Linked DNA regions of Homo sapiens: all the other regions are linked to region 1. The links come from fine-mapping of genetic effects on gene expression. A gene starts in region 1. Each other region holds a variant in brackets. All regions are shown on one strand. Distances are between the middles of the regions. Region 1 holds the start of DDX18 (DEAD-box helicase 18). Region 2 has its middle 44 kb from the start of DDX18. Region 3 has its middle 34 kb from the start of DDX18.

Region 1 (6,456 bases):
AAACAACTTATAGTTTTATGGTGTTCCCTTATAGGGAAAGTAAGTTATCTTAAAGAAAAAATACTGGAAAAGGGAAAGCTATATTGATTTCTTAACTGCAAAAGACCGTACATCTGACTTTAAGGAGTCTAGGACAGGAAAACTTCAATGAGGTCAAATATTTAAACAGATGAGGTCAGATAATGGCAGTTACAGAATAAACATAAGTATTTGATAAACATATGATTAACTGATATATTGAAAAAGACATTTACAACTCATTCACACAAGTACTATTTTTCATACCACTTCAAAACATTCAACCCCAACTCTTCTAGACTGCAGTGAGTTGAAAATTCAGTTGATAAGACCACTTATTTGCTCCAATATTTATCATATGCAAATACAGTAATGCGTGCACAATGACATTTCTGTGAATTAAGGACAACATATACAGTGGCTCCATAAGATTATAACGGAGCTAAAAAATTCCTATCACCTAGTGCCATCAGTAACTGCAATGTCGTAGTGCAACATATTACTCATGTTTGTAGTGATGCTAGTATAAACAAATCTACTGTAATGCCAGTCGTATAAAGTACAGCACACATAATTATGTACAATACATAATACGTGATAATAAACTATGTTACTTGTTTATGTGTTTACTATACTTTTGATCATCATTTTAGAGTTTACTCCTTTTACTTATTAAAAAAAAATGAGTCGACTGTAAAAGAGCCTCAGGGAGAGAGGTATTTTAGAAGGCACTGTTATCATAGGAGATGACAGCTCCATGCCTATTGTTGCCCCTGAAGATCTTCCAGTGGGACAAGATGTGGAAGCGGAAGACAGTGAAACTGAATGTGTCTGTGTCTTTACATTTTTAACAAAAAGCTTAAAAAGAAAAAAAAATAAAATAAAAATCACATAGAATAAGGACAAAAGGAAACTTTTTGTACAGCTGTATGTACAATGTGCTTGTGTTGTAAGCTAAGTGTTATTAAAGTCAAAAGGTTAAAATTTAACAAGTTTATAATGTAAAAGTTACAGCAGGCTAAGGTTAATTTAAGAATAAAAGTATTAAAAAACTCAACAGTGTAGCCCAAGTGTACAGTGTTTATAAAGTCTATAGTGTACAGTAATGTTCTAGGCCTTCACATTCACTCACCGCTCACTGACTCGCTCAGGGTAACTTCCAGTCCTGCAAACTCCATTCATGGTAAGTACTGTATACAGAGGTACCATTTTCTAAATCTCTCATGTCATAGTCTTTTTACTGTACCTTTTCTATGTTTAGATATATTTAGCCATACATACACTTACCATTGTGTTACAATTCTCTGAGTATAGTACAGTAACATGCTGTACAGGATGACAGCTTACGAGCAACAGGCTATATCATGTAGCCTGGGTGTGTAGTAGATTTAGGTTTGTGTAACTAGATAAAGTTCGCAAAACGACAAAAGCCCCTAATGACACATTTCTCACAATGTATCCCCCCTCCTGTTATGCGATGCATGACTGTACCTGAGAATGTCCTTACCAAAGGTTCCCTGTTTGTTTACTGAAAAAGATAAAACACCATCTTTTGTTCAAATTTACTTACATATGCGCTGAAAAGTAGTAATGCTGTAGTATTATTCTATAGGAATTAGAAATACAAGAGTATTTCAAAACATATTCCTAAAATTCACAAACCTATTGCCTCCTGCAGAATTTTTTTTCAATTAATGTCTGTTGAAAACCAACTGGGGCAAGGCACTGTGCCTCCAAACTTTCCCTCGGGGAGTTTGTATCTTAACCTGGACAACAGGTTAACACAATTACTTCAAGATCTGTGGCCCCACTGTCAGGACACTGGGACTGCAAATGAGGTAGGTAAGAAAGGTGACATTCAGATAAAATCCTTTTCATTTAGGTCACTGTGCGGGACACAAATACGTAGAAGCTCTGGTGAGAAAGTGCTACGAGAACGTGTGGAAGTGGGTAGAGGAAGGCAATAGTATCAAAGAAGCTCTGTGGAAACAGCCAGACGGGCTTTTGGGGAAAGAAATACGGGAATTAAATAGATGTGAAAAGTGGGTGGAAATGAGACGTTTCATGCAGCATAACCGGAAATGAGGGATGAGGTGAGGTGCGACTTGCAGGTGGTGAGGGAACCAAAAGCTAAGGTGGAAATGCAAAAGGCAGGGTTAGTCGTAAGCCTAGAAGTGAACGGGGAGTCCTCCCGCTCTAACGTTGTAAGAAGACACTGATTGCTCAGAAAGGTCAGGAGCAGCGCTGGAGCCACGCGACGAGTGGGCAGCAGCGCGGGTCCCGAGTGGAAGCTGCCTTTTCACTCTCCCCAATCACACACGCTGCAGGGGAAGCTGCCTCCGTCACACAGAGCAGCTGGGCCCCCGGCCGCCCGAACGCGCCAGGGCTCGCGCGTGGGTCTTCTGAGCCACCGCGAGTCAACGCATCTCACCCTGAAACTTTAGGTTCCGCTGCCGCAATTTGAGGTTCCGCTTCTCGATCTTCTTACGCAGGAGTTTCATCGGCAGGTGTGACATTCTGCCCAACAAGTGCCTAGAATAAGGCGCCACACAGTACAGCTACTCAGTTCTCAGGCTGACGTTACTTCCCTTCCGGCCGCACGTGCGCAGCTCGGCCAACAGGAAACGCGTCACAGGAACGCTGGCACCCGGCGGAACGAAAATGCTCCAGAGCGGAAATGCTTCCAGACGCGCGCACCGTGATATCTTTGGCGACCAAAATCTTTGCAGCGCCCCCTGGAGAAGTGGAAGCGAGACGCTGCACTGGCTTCACACTGTGCTAAAGCTAACTTGAGCTCCCCCTAGAGGAAGACTGAAGAAAGAACGTGGAGGGGAAGGAGGCCTTAGGGAGTCCGCATTTTTATGTTCCTATCCTCTGTGGGTGCAGAACTAGAGTTGGCCCTCCCTGTACCTGAATTCCCTGTCTGTGGATTCAACCAACTCCCCCATTGAAAACATTAAAAAAAAAACAATTAAAAATAATACAGTGTGATAACTACTTTCATAGCATTTAGGTTGTATAAGGTATTATAAGTCATTTAGAAATGATTTAAAGTATACAGGATGTTGTGTGTAAAATAAATGCAAATATTACACTATTGTATATAAGGGTTTTGAGTATCCTAAGATATTGGTACCCATAGAGGGTCCTGGACTCAATCCCTTGTGGATACTGAGGGACAACTGTATTTGGGAAACTGAATAGAACTAAATTATATATATGCATTTCCAAACTTGTTTGGCCACTCTCCTCAGAAATACAATTTCTGTGTCACTTGGTACACATACACACATAAATATAACATTTCTCAAAATAATATTCTTGCTTTTCACTCTTTTTCCTTCAATTCCATTCATTCCATCCTAAATTATTCTTTTTAGCTTACTAAAAATACTGATTCCTATGAATTTAAATTAACTTTACTACATTAATAATAGGTTGACTGCAGTTTGAAAAAGAGGTTTATATATTCCTTAAGTATACCCAAGGACCCTTCAGCAGTCCAGGACAGAAATTGCAATGTGGCTAGCTAATAGTCATCTCTTTTTTGGGATGGGGAGGAAGACAGGGGTATGCATATAGTATTTAATTTTTAAAAAAATTGTTATCAACATTAAAATACTTGGAGATTTCCATAAAAATTCATATTTGTCTTTAAAAATTGGCCCAATGCCCTCAAATTCCCCTTAACAGTAATCAATTTGAGCTGAACAACTGGAAGAGTCCATGAAACCTGGATTAATTTGTTTACTTGGAGGGGCAGAACATGAGACCCTGGAGATTAGACCTGATCATAGTGAGGAACAGAGAGGGAGAAAACTTGGGAGGGAGTTTAAACAGAATGTGAAGGAATTGACTTCGAAATCACATTGGATTGGACTGGAAAACTAAGACAAACAAATAATAATGTGCTTAGATTAATTTGTTAATGATCAGGCAGGCTGAAGAATGATTCAGAAATGTAAGAGCGCACACACACACGCAAACATTTATCTCAGTGTAAATATATATGCCAGTTTAAATTTATGCATATATCAGTATATATATGCATATACACATATGTATCTATTTCTATAGCTCTATGTACATACATATATATTTACCTGATTACATGTGTGAGTTTTGGGTCTGTGACTTTGAAATAGATACAACTGAAGTATATATAGAAAGTGCTCAAAATTTGTTATTTCTTTTATGTTGTAACTTAAATTTGTGGGGCTATGTTTTGGTAGTAGTAATGGAAAGGTACTCCCTTTTTTCTAGAGTGTGACTTTTTCTAGCTAGTAGTGAAGATTGGCAGTCATTTCCTCAAAACCAAAAAAACCCACATTTACGAGGTGTTTAAGACATTTAGATCAGAGAAGCCGATCCTTTCAGGTGCATGGAAATGCTTAACGTTAGGGATTGATAACCTTTTAAGAAACATAGATAAAGCTACTGATGCCAATTCTTCTGGATTTTTAGAAGAAGAATGAGAAATTATAACTTCAAATCAACTCTCAAAATTAGGGTTGAGAGTTATTTTTAACAGAGTGAATTTCCAAGGCCACATCATCAGTTACTCTAGCAAAGAAAACAATGTCATTGGGTTAGCTACTCAAAAATTACCTGTGAGGATGAGGTAACAATCACGTGCTTCTGAAAAGCCTGTTGTTCTTCACAGCTGGAGCCTATCCCAGTATCTATTCAGAATGCGTTTCAGTCTTTAAAACTTCTTGCTTGGGCTCTCCATCACAGAGGTCTCTCTCTTCAGAATATGGTCATTCGCCATAAAACAATCGCATAATATAGTCATTATGCAACTATTTTTTGAGCATTTTTGTGCTAAGAGTGTGTGGTAGGCATGTGCCAAATCCTGGGTATAAAATGGTGGACAAGATAGACCTGGCTCGCCTAGGTGGAGCTTACAGAGCTTACAAGGAAGACAGAAAATTAAACGATTATGGTAAACTATGATGAATGCAGTGAAAAGGAAGCACATCACAGGAGCAACATCCTAGCCTTGGGAAGGGGTCTGGGGATGGAGTCTGTCATTCAATATTCATTATGCATAGGGACTGAGCCAGCAGCAGGCAGAAGCAGGAAGGGAGTTGCTGTCTTTTTTTTGTTGGTTTGTTTGTGTGTTTTGAGACAGAGTTTTGCTCTTGTTGCCCAGGCTGGAGTTCAATGGCGCGAACTTGGCTTACCGCAACCTCCGCCTCTGGGTTCAAGTGATTCTCCTGCCTCAGCCTCCCAAGTAGCTGGGATTACAAGCATGCACCACTATACCCAGATAATTTTGCATTTTTAGTAGAGACAGGGTTTCTCCATGTTATTCACGCTGGTCTCGAACTCCTGACCTCAGGTGATCCATCCGCCTCAGCCTCCTAAAGTGCTGAGATTACAGGCATGAGCCACCGCACCTGGCCAGGAGTTTCTGTCTTTTACCTCCTGACTAAAAATAATTAAGTTTAACATAGAACAGGTCTTATTCATGCTGTTTTGTTTTTCAGTTTTCACTTGAGATCCTTAAACCTGAGACAAGTGTTTGTAAAATAAAACGCAGATTTGTGTAGTTTGTCATTCAAATTAAAAACGTCCCACTTCACTGGGAAAAGAAATCAATCTATTTCACCAACATCATAGAATTGTGAGCCAGAAATAACTGACTCATCCTCTCGGATCACTGCATTAGGACTCTTGAAGTGATTTTCTAGGAACTTTCAAATGCTATTTTCTATAAGGTTAACCACTCTGTTGTGTATTGGAACTTAAAAAGTGCTATGTTATTGTAAATAAGCATGATGTTGCCTCCTTCACATTACCTGACTTTCCTGGACCAGCATCTGGTTCTGTGTATTTCTACATTGTAGAAAGCAGATGGCTGGTACTTAAGAAAGGTTTTCTTCAGTGAACTGATGGACATAAGAGTGAGAGATTATTTTAAAGAGCATCACCACAATTCATGACAAGTCATTATTGCAGTGGTCCTAGGAGCTGGAGAGGATACAGAAACATATAACAGAAACTTTTCTGTCAAGAAGTTTATTCATTTATTAATTTAAAAAAATACCATCTATCCATTCCAGGTACTGTTTTAGGCCTCAGGGATCAGCAGTAAACAAGACAGGAAAAGTCCTCATTTCCAGGGAGATTACAGCCTGGATAAGAGACGACAGGTATAAGTAAACCTTGTGATTGAACAAGATACCTTTGCATGAAGCTAAATGCTGGGAAGACATTACAACCAGACAATGCAATATAATAAAGAGGGATGGGTGGGAGGGCAGGACAGCATGCTATTCAGGTGGGAGGTATTTTTTGAGGAGGCAAAGATCTAAGGTCAGAGAAAAGGCTGTCAAAGACAAGTCTTAATATGCTATTAAGTAACAATTCAAGGGATCAAGAGCAGATTTGTAGTCAGGAGCATAAGAGGAGATTTGCAGGGGGAAAGAGTCT
Region 2 (6,456 bases), 44 kb after region 1:
ATATTTATGTCTAGAGTCCATCAGAAATTATGAATTAAGGGTTGGCTTTAATTTTTTTCATATGGAAATCTAAGAAGCATTCGTTGACAGACAGTCCTTTCTCCACTGTTCTGTGAACCACCGTTCAAATGTCCATGAATCTGTTTCTGGGTTCTCTAGTTTATACCATCAGTCTCTTTGCCTATTGTTGAACCAGTACCACGCTGTCTTAATTACTGTAATGTTATCATAGGCCTTGATATATGGTCGAGCACCTTTTACCTTTCCTTTTTCTTCAATACACATTTACTGCCAGCTTATCAATTCTGTCTGTCTCTCTCTCTCTCACACACACACACACACACACACAGTGTGCACCCATAAACACATGCACAGACATACACCCTGTTGGGATTTTGATTAGAAGTGCATTGAATCTATAGATCATTTGGAAGGATTCACATGTTTACAATATTAAACCTTTAAACCTCCTATCCAGTTCTTTCCAATTTTTTTCCTATGCTCCCCCTGAAACTGAAGGAGCCCCCCGGTTTTTTTTTTTTACTTTTTTCCCTAACTTCTCCTACTGTGAAATTTTAATACCACAGGTATACTGTATATCTTTGCTTTGCATATAAGAAGATTTTTTTATCATCCTAAAACCTAACACTTTTCCCTTTCGGGGCTATTTTACCCTTGTTGTGAATGAGTCCCTTGTATTGAGAAATCCCTTCATTCAATCAATTCAGTTCAATTCCTTGGATTGAAATCCCCAATTTCATTTATTTAGATATTCTTTAATTTCTCTTAGTAATATTTTATCATTTTTCTGTGTAGCAGTCAAAATGTATCTAGTTTCAAGTTGATTCTTCGGTATTTGATATTTTGGAATGTAGGGTTCATGCCCTTCTGGGTTGGCTGTACAGCCCCCAAGCAGGCTTAGGTGAACAGGTGAGGTCACCATTGTGCAGGGCACCTTGGCCTCCTAGCTTCACATCTAAACACCTGCCATCTGGGTGCCCCACCTTACAAAGTCTTGATTTGTAGACTCCATTTTTCAAGACATATTACTTGAAAGTCCCAGTCTAATTCCAAACCCATTTGTCATTTGTGGCTATGAAATAAAATAATATGTATGGGTTTAACTGCAGAACAGATATTTTGAAAGGAAGGACATGTCTTGGAAAGTGTTCAAAATTAAGGCATAAGCAACATTAATTTTTTTTTCCTGGTTTACAAGAACCAGAGTGAAAACGAGTCAGTAGATGGCACTGTTTCTTAATAGATAGAGAAAACCCTACACTGGTGGAAGAGGTTTGAATGGAAACATTTTTTTTTCCATTAAATTGGAATTAAGAATAATATAAATAAAACTTTAAAAAAAAGTTCTGTGGGATCCCTTGCGATCTACTTCTCTGGTGAGCTTAATTAAAGTCAATGAAGAAGCTTAAGCTCCTACACCCTCTCTTACTCTTGGTGGGCTCTTGCTCTAATTGTGTCTTCTCTCAGACAAGGCTAAGCTAAGTGACAGTGTATTGTACAGTTGGCGAGGTCAGAATAAAGTCACTGAGACAGAAGTCCCAGGTGCCTCCTGTGTGTGGCCCTGTGCTCTGGCAGAAGGCAATGCTGGTTTTCATTGTCAGCACCATCTGTGCAGGAGACATCACAAAGCATGAGAGGACTAAACCGAAGAGTCTCCTCTCAGTGTGTTTTCCATGCAGCAGAGCAGAAGATCTGGTTGCAAATCCTGCCTTAGCTGCGTCCTACCTATTTAACCTTGGTAAACGATTTCGTCTCACTGATTTCAATTTTGTTACCTGGAAAATGGAGATAATCTCTACATCACAAGATGCTGTGAAGATTAAATGAGGTGATATATGTAGAGCATTTAGCCTGGTTACCCAGTGACAACATGCTTTTGTGATTATTCCATGCTTTTTGGGGTTTGGAAGTGGCATGGAAAGTAGACCTCATGGGTTTCAAGTGGTAACTGTCCTGTGCCCAGGTAAAAAAATGTCAGCAAATCTGGCCACTTGTGTTGCTCTCACTCAAGTTTAAACTATGCAAACTAGGAATATGGCCTTAAATGGCAGAACTACTTTTGCTTCCTGGGTTCCCTGAGGTACTTTAAAAACATGCCAATGCCCCAGCCCTGGAGATTCTGATTTAATTGGTCTGGCATGGGCCAGCTCCCCAGGTGACTCTAGTTGGCAGCTTGTTTAGATGCCCAGTCTACAGTGTGCTGTCTTTACACAGTGTTATCTGCAAAGGTGAGACCAGGTCTCAGTCTTCTCTTGCAGTTTCAGGTTAGTATCTGAGTATCTGTGAGATATCCGAGCTCATCATTTCTTCCTGGGTACTGTGCAGTCGGCTCAGGTAAGTCGCTGACAGGTACATTTGACAGAAGATTCAGACAGGGTAGAGGTGTGATTAAAATATATGTGGCTTGTCTTCTCCTTAGATGTGCTTTCTGAAACACTGAAATAAAGCTCTATGAGGAAATCACAGAGAACACCATGAAATACTGTATTTTTTCTCATTTTCTATCTTTGTCTATGTTTTTGTTTCTGTTTATGTATACGTCTCTGTGTCTGTCTGCTCTCTTGATGTCTTGCCTGTTTGTCTTTGATTTTGTCTGTTCTGTTCCTTTCTGTCTCTGTGTGTCTTGCTGCTCTGTATCTGTATGTCTGCTCTATTTCTGTTTGTTTACTTTGTCTGTATCTGTCTCTCTCTTGACTTGTTTGTCTTGGTGGGACCTGATTTATGCACTCAAGGGTCATTGTGCATATTAGTCAGGCTTCTCCAGAGAAACCAACAGGGTGTGTGTGTGTGTGTGTGTGTGTCTGTGTGTGTGTGTGTGTGTGTATGTTTGTATGTATGGAATTGGCTCACATGGTTTGAAGACTGAGAAGTCCCAAGATCTGATGTCAGTCAGCTGAAGTCCCAGGAGAGTAGATGGTGTAATTTCCAATCTAAGTTTGAGTATGAAGACAGAAAATGATTGATGTCCCAGTTTGAAGATAGTCAGATGGAGAGAGAGAGAATTCTTTCTTATTTATTCTTTTTGTTCTATTCAGGCCTTCAAGGGATTGGATAATGCTCACCTACATTAGGTAGGGTAATCTGCTTTACTAAGTCTACCAATTCAAACATTAATCTCACCCAGAAACAGTCCCACAGGCATGCTTAAATGATGTTTCATCAAATATCTAGGCATTCTGTGGCTCAGTCAAGTTAACACATAAAATTAAGCATCACACCATGCAAGTCCATTATGTCCACCACCCTAGAACTTCTGGGTCTAGAAGTCTTAATTTGGCTGACCAAGGGTCAAATTTGCCTCTCAGGTACATGTTGCTGGTCTCCTGCCTGCATCTGTGTATTATACCCAGTGAGCTTTACTCTGTACATTATCCATCTGACCACTTTTCTAGGACATGGCCAGGTGCGAGGTCACTAAACTTGTGCCCCTTTTCTATCTACTCCACTCTACTGCAGCCAAGCTAGATTAAATAT[A/G]GTTTTTTAATGTCTGTGAGAAAATCAAAGCATGTTTGTAACCCTCACTGGCAATATTACTCAGCTAAAAGTATTCAACAACTTGACTACATAACTCTTTGGTTTCTTCTCTGTCCTCTATCCTGGAAAGAAAACCCACCACATTATTGACTTATCCATGGAAAGAAAGGGATTTCATTCATTTGTACCCTCTTTACCAGGGTGACCCCACAGTGGTTTTTATGTCCTGCTTCCTCAGGAACGAGGGAGGTTTTCTTCCCTTTCCCCCTTCTTCTTCTTCTTCTTTATCTTTTTAAAGTCACTTAGTGCTCCTTCCTCACTGGAACTTTGCCTGACATCTCCAGATACTGAATTCCTTTATCAACTAGGACATACACCATTGGGCTGCTCTGGATGTAAACTGTCTTCTGTAAATAGCTTGGAGTTTAAAAATACAAGTTTGATCCTAAATATATATGCACCCAATACAGGAGCACCCAGATTCATAAAGCAAGTCCTGAGTGACCTACAAAGAGACTTAGGACTCCCACACAATAATAATGGGAGACTTTAACACCCCACTGTCAACACTAGACAGATCAACGAGACAGAAAGTTAACAAGGATACTCAGGAATTGAACTCAGCTCTGCACCAAGCGGACCTAACAGACATCTACAGAACTCTCCACCCCAAATCAACAGAATATACATTTTTTTCAGCACCACACCACACCTATTCCAAAATTGACCACATAGTGGGAAGTAAAGCTCTCCTCAGCAAATGTGAAAGAACAGAAATTATCACAAACTGTCTCTCAGATCACAGTGCAATCAAACTAAAACTCAGGATTAAGAAACTCACTCAAAACCGCTCAACTACATGGAAACTGAACAACCTGCTCCTGAATGACTACTGGATACATAACGAAATGAAGGCAGAAATAAAGATGTTCTTTGAAACCAACGAGAACAAAGACACAACATACTAGAATCTCTGGGACACATTCAAAGCAGTGTGTAGAGGGAAATGTATAGCACTAAATGCCCACAACAGAAAGCAGGAAAGATCCAAAATTGACACCCTAACATCACAATTAAAAGAACTAGAAAAGCAAGTGCAAACACATTCAAAAGCTAGCAGAAGGCAAGAAATAGCTAAAATCAGAGCAGAACTGAAGGAAATAGAGACATAAAAATCCCTTCAAAAAATTAATGAATCCAGGAGCTGATTTTTTGAAAGGATTAACAAAATTGATAGACTGCTAGCAAGACTAATAAAGAAAAAAAGGGAGAAGAATCAAATAGATGTAATAAAAAAATGATAAAGGGGATATCACCACCGATCCTACAGAAATACAAACTACCATCAGAGAATACTACAAACACCTCTATGCAAATAAACTCGAAAATCTAGAAGAAATGGATAAATTCCTCGGCACATACACCCTCCCAAGACTAAACCAGGAAGAAGTTGAATCTTTGAATAGGCCAATAACAGGATCTGAAATTCTGGCAATAATCAATAGCTTACCAACCAAAAAGAGTCCATGACCAGATGGATTCACAGCCAAATTCTACCAGAGGTACAAGGAGGAACTGGTACCATTCCTTCTGAAACTATTCCAATCAGTAGAAAAAGAGGGAATCCTCCCTAACTCATGAGGCCAGCATCATCCTGATACCTAAGCTGGGCAGAGACACAACCAAAAAAGATAATTTTAGACCAATATCTTTGATGAACATTGATGCAAAAATCCTCAGTAAAATACTGTCAAGGCGAATCCAGCAGCACATCAAAAAGCTTATCCACCATGATCAAGTGGGCTTCATCCCTGGGATGCAAGGCTGGTTCAATATAAGCAAATCAATAAATGTAATCCAGCATATAAACAGAACCAAAGACAAAAACCACATGATTATCTCAATAGATGCAGAAAAGGCCTTTGACAAAATTCAACAACCTTCATGATAAAAACTCTCAATAAATCAGGTATTGATGGGACGTATCTCAAAATAATAAGAGCTATCTATGACCAACCCACAGCCAATATCATACTGAATGGGCAGAAACTGGAAGCATTCCCTTTGAAAACTGGCACAAGACAGGAATGCCCTCTCTCACCACTCCTATTCAACATAGTGTTGGAAGTTCTGGCCAGGGCAATTAGGCAGGAGAAGGAAATAAAGGGTATTCAGTCAGGAAAAGAGGAAGTCAAATTGTCCCTGTTTGCAGACGACATGATTGTATATCTAGAAAACCCCATCATCTCAGCCCGAAATCTCCTTAAGCCGATAAGCAACTTCAGCAGTCTCAGGATACAAAATCAATGTACAAAAATCACAAGCATTCTTATACACAAATAACAGACAAACAGAGAGCCAAATCATGAGTGAACTCCCATGCACAATTGCTTCAAAGAGAATAAAATACCTAGGAATCCACCTTACAAGGGATGTGAAGGACCTCTTCAAGGAGAACTACAAACCACTGCTCAATGAAATAAAAGTGGATACAAACAAATGGAAGAACATTCCATGCTCATGGGTAGGAAGAATCAATATCATGAAAATGGCCATACTGCCCAAGGTAATTTATAGATTCAATGCCATCCCCATCAAGCTACCAATGACTTTCTTCACAGAATTGGAAAAAACTACTTTAAAGTTCATATGGAACCGAAAAAGAGCCTGCATCACCAAGTCAATCCTAAGCCAAAAGAACAAAGCTGGAGGCATCACACTATCTGACTTCAAACTACACTACAAGGCTACAGTAAGCAAAACAGCATGGTACTGGTACCAAAACAGAGATATAGATCAATGGAACAGAGCAGAGCCCTCAGAAATAACACCGCATATCTACAACTATCTGATCTTTGACAAACCTGAGAAAAACAAGCAATGGGGAAAGGATTCCCTATTTAATAAATGGTGCTGGGAAAACTGGCTAGCCATATGTAGAAAGCTGAAACTGGATCCCTT
Region 3 (6,456 bases), 34 kb before region 1:
GTTCCTGAACAAGAAAGTCGGTGTGCACACACCAACACACATGCACACACACACACCCCTCTGGGAAACAAGCAAAATTTTTTTAGGGATAGTCTAAATCCACATTTAGAGAAATTTTTTTCCCCTAAAGGGAATGTGATGAACAGAGAAGCCTGCCACATATAGGGAAATGCTCTTTTATGGGGCCAAGCAGCCCTGTTTCCCTCCTTGTTGCTCCTAAACCTCTCTGTTCCAGAAGGGATTGCTGCTTTACTTTGGCATTACCAAAAGGCTTAGACAAAGAAATTGCTTGACATCACAGGTGAAATTCAGACCTCTGCCTCCAGAGAAACTGAAAAAGTGCCTGCAACTTTAGCCATCTTTCTTCCTCACCCACTGCTTGTCTCCACCAGGATTTTAGAAAATCATATGGAGAAAATAAAGTTATATACACAAAAAATCCTGCACATCGTTGTTTGTAGCATATTTATTCATAATTGCGTACTTGCCAAAACTGGGAAGCAACCAAGAATAAAGCCAAAATCATTTGATCTAGTCCCAGTCAGGTACCCCATTATATCTGCAGTTGGAAATAAATGGATGTGCATCCTCTATACATTAATATATGCCATAATGTTATCTGCCTTCATAAAACTGTTTTAACCTCTGATTATGTTTTACACTGAAATACAATAATTAAAGGCACACTCCTTTCCTATGTTATAAACTACTATTGTTGGTACTCAACCAAAATGAAGAGTTTTGCTCTATGTGTGGAAACGGATCTGGGCTTGATGTTGGTCCCAGCCTCCTCAGTGCTGCGGATTTGCTTTAGAATAAAAGTGGGTGGAAATCATTTCTCCAGATAAGCAATGGGCTTATCTCCAGCCCACTATCAAAGCAGTGTTAAGGATCAGTTGGAGACAGGGAAAAGAAAACAGGTTCAAGGAAACATCGAGGCATAATTGGCATTTGTTTTCCTACTGTGTGTGGGTGTTGAAGCTAATTTGTTTGCAGGAACGTGGGGAAAGATAGTGCCTTAGAGTAGTTGTTCCTCCTACTACTCTTGGAGTTTTAATTAGCAGATGGGCTCCTTCCCCCACCACCTGCCAGCTGCTTTCTTTTCACATGACCAAAGGTAGTTTTTAAAAATTTCCATGCATTCAAACCTCAGCTCTTAAAAATGCCCTTTTTCTCATGAAAAGATCTCTAATGAAGACTCTGGGTCAAGAATGAAAAGTTTCCCAGAGTCAACAATGATAATAAAGACCACCCAATAACTGCAAGAATCCTGTACAAACAGGTCACATCCCATGGGCGGGGACTCCGCTGGGTTTGAAATTCTCACTGGCTCATCTTTCCACCTGTTGTGCTCTCCTCCCTCCCTCATCAGGAGGGGTGAGGGGATAGAAGCAGGATCAGGTGGGGAGGGAGAGGGAGCACGTGGAGGAGAGTGTGTGTCTCAGCTGATCTCTTCTGCATTTTAAGCTGCTCGTAGGAAGGCGAAATTGGAAAGGAGGGCTGTAATGAGGTCGAGAATTACCCACATTCCCCCTGCAGGCTAATTTACTCCCCTACTCAGAGCTGCGTGAAGTTCAGGGTAGCCAGGACCAGGGGATTTAGCCCCAGAGCCTGTAACTGAACCATCAGCCCTGGAATAACCAGTAGTTGCAATTTCTAACTAACTTCGGAGAAGCAAAATAAAAAAGTGCTTAAAAACCAAAATGATTAAAAGAACCCCAAGGCTCGTAATTTGGAAATGTCAATTAGGAAACACATCATTGAGAAAAGTATAGATTAGAAAAATAAATCAAGACAAGATGATACTTATAAGTTTAATGTCTAGATTAATAGGATGACAATAGAGGGCCATAAAGAAATATCTTACCCATGCATTGCTTGTCAGTGAATGATAGCTATAAGGTTTTAGAGAAAAGCATGAAATATTTTGAAAAATGCATGAGTTTAAGTATAGATTCTAAGAAAAACCCCTCACTCACTATCTTACTTCACGTGCTGTGATGAAAATGGCAATTCTGCCCAAGACCCTGGGGCAGAAGGTATTCTGATTTCTGGAAGCCCTTGCCTTTCATTCGTCTCCAGGAAGTTTCTGAAATGAATTCAAATTCTCCAGCTGCAGAGAAAGGCTCTGGTGGTTTCTGATTCCCTGGTGTGCTGACTGGCAGCTGTAAATGAACTTCAGAATTTCGAAGGAGTAATACTTTCCAGTTGCCCAGGTTCCGTCAGGGTTCCCTCGTTTTCTCCGCCCAGGCTTTCTTCTCCTGTACTGATCTTTGTCTTTGCTGGAATTTGATTTCCTATGGGTGGTAGGAGAGAGTCTTTACCACGCCTCCTCCTCAGAGTTTCTTTGATGTTTATAATTTCTGATTCCAGCACATTCCAGGCACATGGTTTTTATCTTGCAAAATCTGAACTTTTTTTCTGGACTTTACAGAAATCCAGTCTCTGGATCCCCTTCCTCTAAGCAAACGTACCTTTCACTTTTTTTTTTTCTTTTGAGACAGAGTTTCCACTCTTGTTGCCCAGGCTGGAGTGCAATGGTGCGATCTCAGCTCACTGTAACCTCCGCCTCCTGGGTTCAAGTGATTCTCCTGCCTCAGCCTCCTGAGTAGCTGGGATTACAGGCATGCGCCACCATGCCCGGCTGATTTTTGTGTTTTTAGTAGAGATGGGGTTTTGCCATGTTGGCTAGGGTAGTCTTGAACTCCTGACCTCAGGTCATCCACCCACCTCAGCCTCTCAAAGTGGT[G/A]GGATTACAGGCATGAGCCACCGCGCCCGGCCAGCTCTCACCTTTAAAAATACAGTTTGTGCAATGGATTATTTTCCTACTGTGAAATTTTCTTTGGGTTTCTAAGGGTCATAGAGAAAACAGAAGACGTTCAAGATTCTTGTTCTTTTTGCTCCCACTGTTCTTTCAGCATCTCCGCATACTTACCCAGAAATGATGTGACCCAAGTCTTGGTTTGCTGTCACCGAGTGAAGAAAGAAGGGGAGCTCTGGAGCCCAGCAGGTGCAAATGCCTGCCTGGTCACCACCAGGTCGCGGGTACAGTCACTATGGGCAGGAGGCTTCATTGCTCTGCACATTGTCCCCATGGCCTTCTTGCAGCTTGCCTCTCTCCTCCAGGGAGTGACTGCCTTGGCACACTCTGTTCCAAATAAGACCTGACAAACAAGTGTGATGGATGTTTCCTGTCTTTCCTCTTCTTCCTCCGTTCTCCTCCTTTCCTTTCATTCTCTTTTTTTTAAGGCCATCATAGTTGACACCAAGATCCCCCTTTCAGGACTGAAGGACTGAGTTGTCCCTCCCTCCCTGTTTTAGTCCATTTTCAAGCTGCTGATAAAGACATACCCGAGACTGGGAAGAAAAAGAGGTTTAATTGGAGTTACAGTTCCACATGGCTGGGGAGGCCTCAGAATCATGGCAGGAGGTGAAAAGCACTTCTTACATGGCGGCGGCAAGAGAAAATGAGGAAGAAGCAAAAGTGCAAACCCCTGATAAACCCATAAGATCTCATGAGACTTATTCACTATCATGAAAATAGCACGGGAAAGACTGGCCCCCATAATTCAATTACCTCCCCCTGGGTCCCTTTCTGGGAAATACAATTCAAGTTGAGATTTGGGTGGAGACACAGGCAAACCGTATCACTCCCCTTCTCGGCTGCTGGGAAAGCTTCCACAAACAGCCTTCACCTCACCACACAGCCTCTTCTGGAATCACCTCACACAAGGCTGCTGCCTGTTCCAGGAGCAGCCCTCAGACATGATCAACACAGCATATAAAGGCCCAGGCCCCAGCCCCAACTTGAGGCTCAGAAGGGTCTGATCAGCTTCACAACTTCCCAGTGGGGTTAGCTGTGACTTTTGTCAAAACTGTCATGCCTCAGCTTCCCCCTTGGCCCAAATCTTCCTACATTCCCTGCATACCAATCCCCGTCTCAGTGTCTGTGTCCTAGCGAACCTGACCTACAAGAATCATGATGAGGTAGGATAAAGAAGGCACAATTCAATGGACAAAAGAAATCTACACTCAACAGGTCCATCGTGATAAAAGATGGTGACCAATGAAAGGTCATCACTTAGCATTCCATTCAAACAACATATTTATGGGGAAAAAAATCAATGGGAGAGAGTAGTCAGGGGAAGCTTCCTGGAGGAGGTGGAGTGAGAGCTGTTGTTCGTGGGTAGTAGGAATTGAAAAGGAGGAGGAACAACGCTGAGGACTTTAGGTAGGGAATTGCTTAAGCAATTTGAAAATGAACATCCTTAGTTTGTGATACGGCGAGTTTTATGTGGGCAAAGCAGACATGTGGTTTGGATAAGCTAGATGGTGTTTAGTTAGATTTGGAAGAATTTTGACAGCCAGGTTGAGATGCCTGAGCTCCCCCAAGCAGTGAGGAACAATGAGACATAGTGGTGCAGAAGAGGGACTTGAATGTTATTTAGGTGGAGGTGATGCTGAATAATTGTTTAGGCTGGGTGGCAGAGATTTCATGATCATAGTTGATACCAGTAGTTGAAACAATCACTCCTAATTTTACTTATTTTTAAGAAAATTACTACATTTTCATTTTGTTGTAGAGTATTACAACATTCGAGGTTGGTGCCAAATTAATTGTGGTTTTGCAAAACCGCAATTAATTTTGCACCAACCTAATAGAACAGTGACTCAAGTCTCACAAGGTGTGTGGCTGTTTTAGCAACTGTCGACAGCTCCATTGCAGTGACACCTCCCCCTCCCGGCTGTTGGCACATTATGATGGGAGTTTGAGAGAGGCTGCTTGACGGCACCACCAGACTTTTCCTGTTGCATTTGTGTGTGCAGGAGTATTATTTTACCAGCAGTCTATATGATGAGTTAGTGCTGGGATTACTTTGAAGGGAGGAAACCTTTTGGGTGACAATTTCCACGGATCCAAGCGGGGAGTGAAAGGAACAAGGACCCAGGCAAGGGCAATGGAGAAGGACAAGAACAAACATTTCGAGGGAATTGGCCAGATTAATTGGAATTGCCAAAGAGAGCTCAATTCTGCCTGATGGAACTTTTAAACAGGGAAGATGGGGGTAGGAGTGGGTAGTTGGAATCTGAGGCTCCAGGGGCTTCCAGACCCCATCCTTCCAATGGACCAAAAGTGCTGTCGCCTGGTAAGGCCCAGAGCATATCTGTCCCTTTCACTCTTGCTTCCCAAATTATCCCACTTCACATATTTGGGGTAAAATGAACTGACCTCAACAAGGAGGCCACACCCCCTCACTCTGAGTTTCTTTCTCATGAAGGCAAATGGTTTGCCCTGAGCCATGCACAGTCGCTATAACTTGTGACCAAAGGGTGTGAATAGGGTTGCAGATCTGGTGTGCGACTAGGACGCAGTTGGTATCAGAACTGTCCTCAGTTGGAGGGTATCTAGCCCATGGGGACAAGAGCCAGCAGCCTTGAACTTGTTAGCATGGAAGCCTCATTTCCCCGCTTTGCCTTGGGCATCAGGATGCTTAGAGCGGTATTTAATTTAATTTTTTATTGTGGTTTTACATATATATATATGTATATATATACACACATATATACATATTACATTTTATAAACATAAAATTTATCATTTTAAACATTTTAAAGTGTACAATTCAGCAGCATTAATTACCTTCACAACATATGCAACCACCACTACTATTCCCAAACTTTTTTTTATCACCTCAAACAAAAACTGTCTAACCATGAAGCCATAACTCCTCATTTTCCCTTCTCCCAACCCCTGGTAACCTCTAATTAACTTTATTTTTCTATTAGTTTTGCCTATTCTAGATACTTTAAGTAAAATTGTATAGTATTTGTCTTCTTGTGTCTGGCTATTTTCACTTAGCAAAGTGTTTTCAAGGTTCATCCATCTTGTAGCATGTGTCAGAATTTCATCCCTTTTCATCTTCCGTTGGAATATATAAACCTCATTTTATTTCTGGATTCATCTGTTGATGGACATTTGGGCTGTTTACATCTTTTGGTTATTGTAAATAAGGCTGCAAAGACATAGACATACAAGTATCTGGTGGAGTCCCTGTTTTCATTTCCTTTGGAGTGGAATTGTTGCGTCATATGATAATTCTATGTTTAACTTATTGATGAACTGGTGAACTGTTTTCCACTGTGGCTGTGCCATGTTACACTCCCCCAGCAGTGTATAAGGGTTACAATTTCTTCACATTCTTGCAACATTTGTTATTTTCCATTTTTTCTTTTCTTTTTAAATTATAGCCATCTCAGTCAGTGTTCCTTGTATCTCACTGTGGCTCATATTTAATTATTAATTGCATATATCTTTCCCTTCCTTTGTTGTACTTTTATAAATTATCTCTATTTTTATTGTTTATTGTCTTCTTTTTTCATTGTACATCTTTTTGGAAATAGGTGAATTTTAAATCATGTGTGAAGAAATGCAAAAATATCACAAAGACTTAATGG

Evidence for each region. PIP is the estimated chance that this variant, and not a neighbour inherited with it, causes the effect.
Region 2: its variant is fine-mapped to the expression of DDX18 in whole blood (INTERVAL, PIP 0.96).
Region 3: its variant is fine-mapped to the expression of DDX18 in T cells (TOPMed, PIP above 0.99). The same link has a PIP of 0.9 or more in fibroblasts.

The regions. Positions count from the first base shown.
Region 1 is chr2:117,810,856-117,817,311 of GRCh38, reverse strand. It overlaps DDX18 (DEAD-box helicase 18), which reads right to left and starts at 2,621. Exons shown (of 14, transcript NM_006773.4): 1 at 2,450-2,621. The coding sequence starts at 2,534. RefSeq lists enhancers at 1,764-2,299, 2,375-2,424, 2,445-2,494, 2,625-2,754, 2,300-2,837 and 1 more.
Region 2 is chr2:117,767,207-117,773,662 of GRCh38, reverse strand. No RefSeq gene overlaps it. Among named protein-coding and RNA genes, the nearest start is that of DDX18, 44 kb to the left of the region's middle. The variant A/G (reference allele first, on the strand shown) is at 3,496.
Region 3 is chr2:117,845,129-117,851,584 of GRCh38, reverse strand. No RefSeq gene overlaps it. Among named protein-coding and RNA genes, the nearest start is that of DDX18, 34 kb to the right of the region's middle. The variant G/A (reference allele first, on the strand shown) is at 2,750.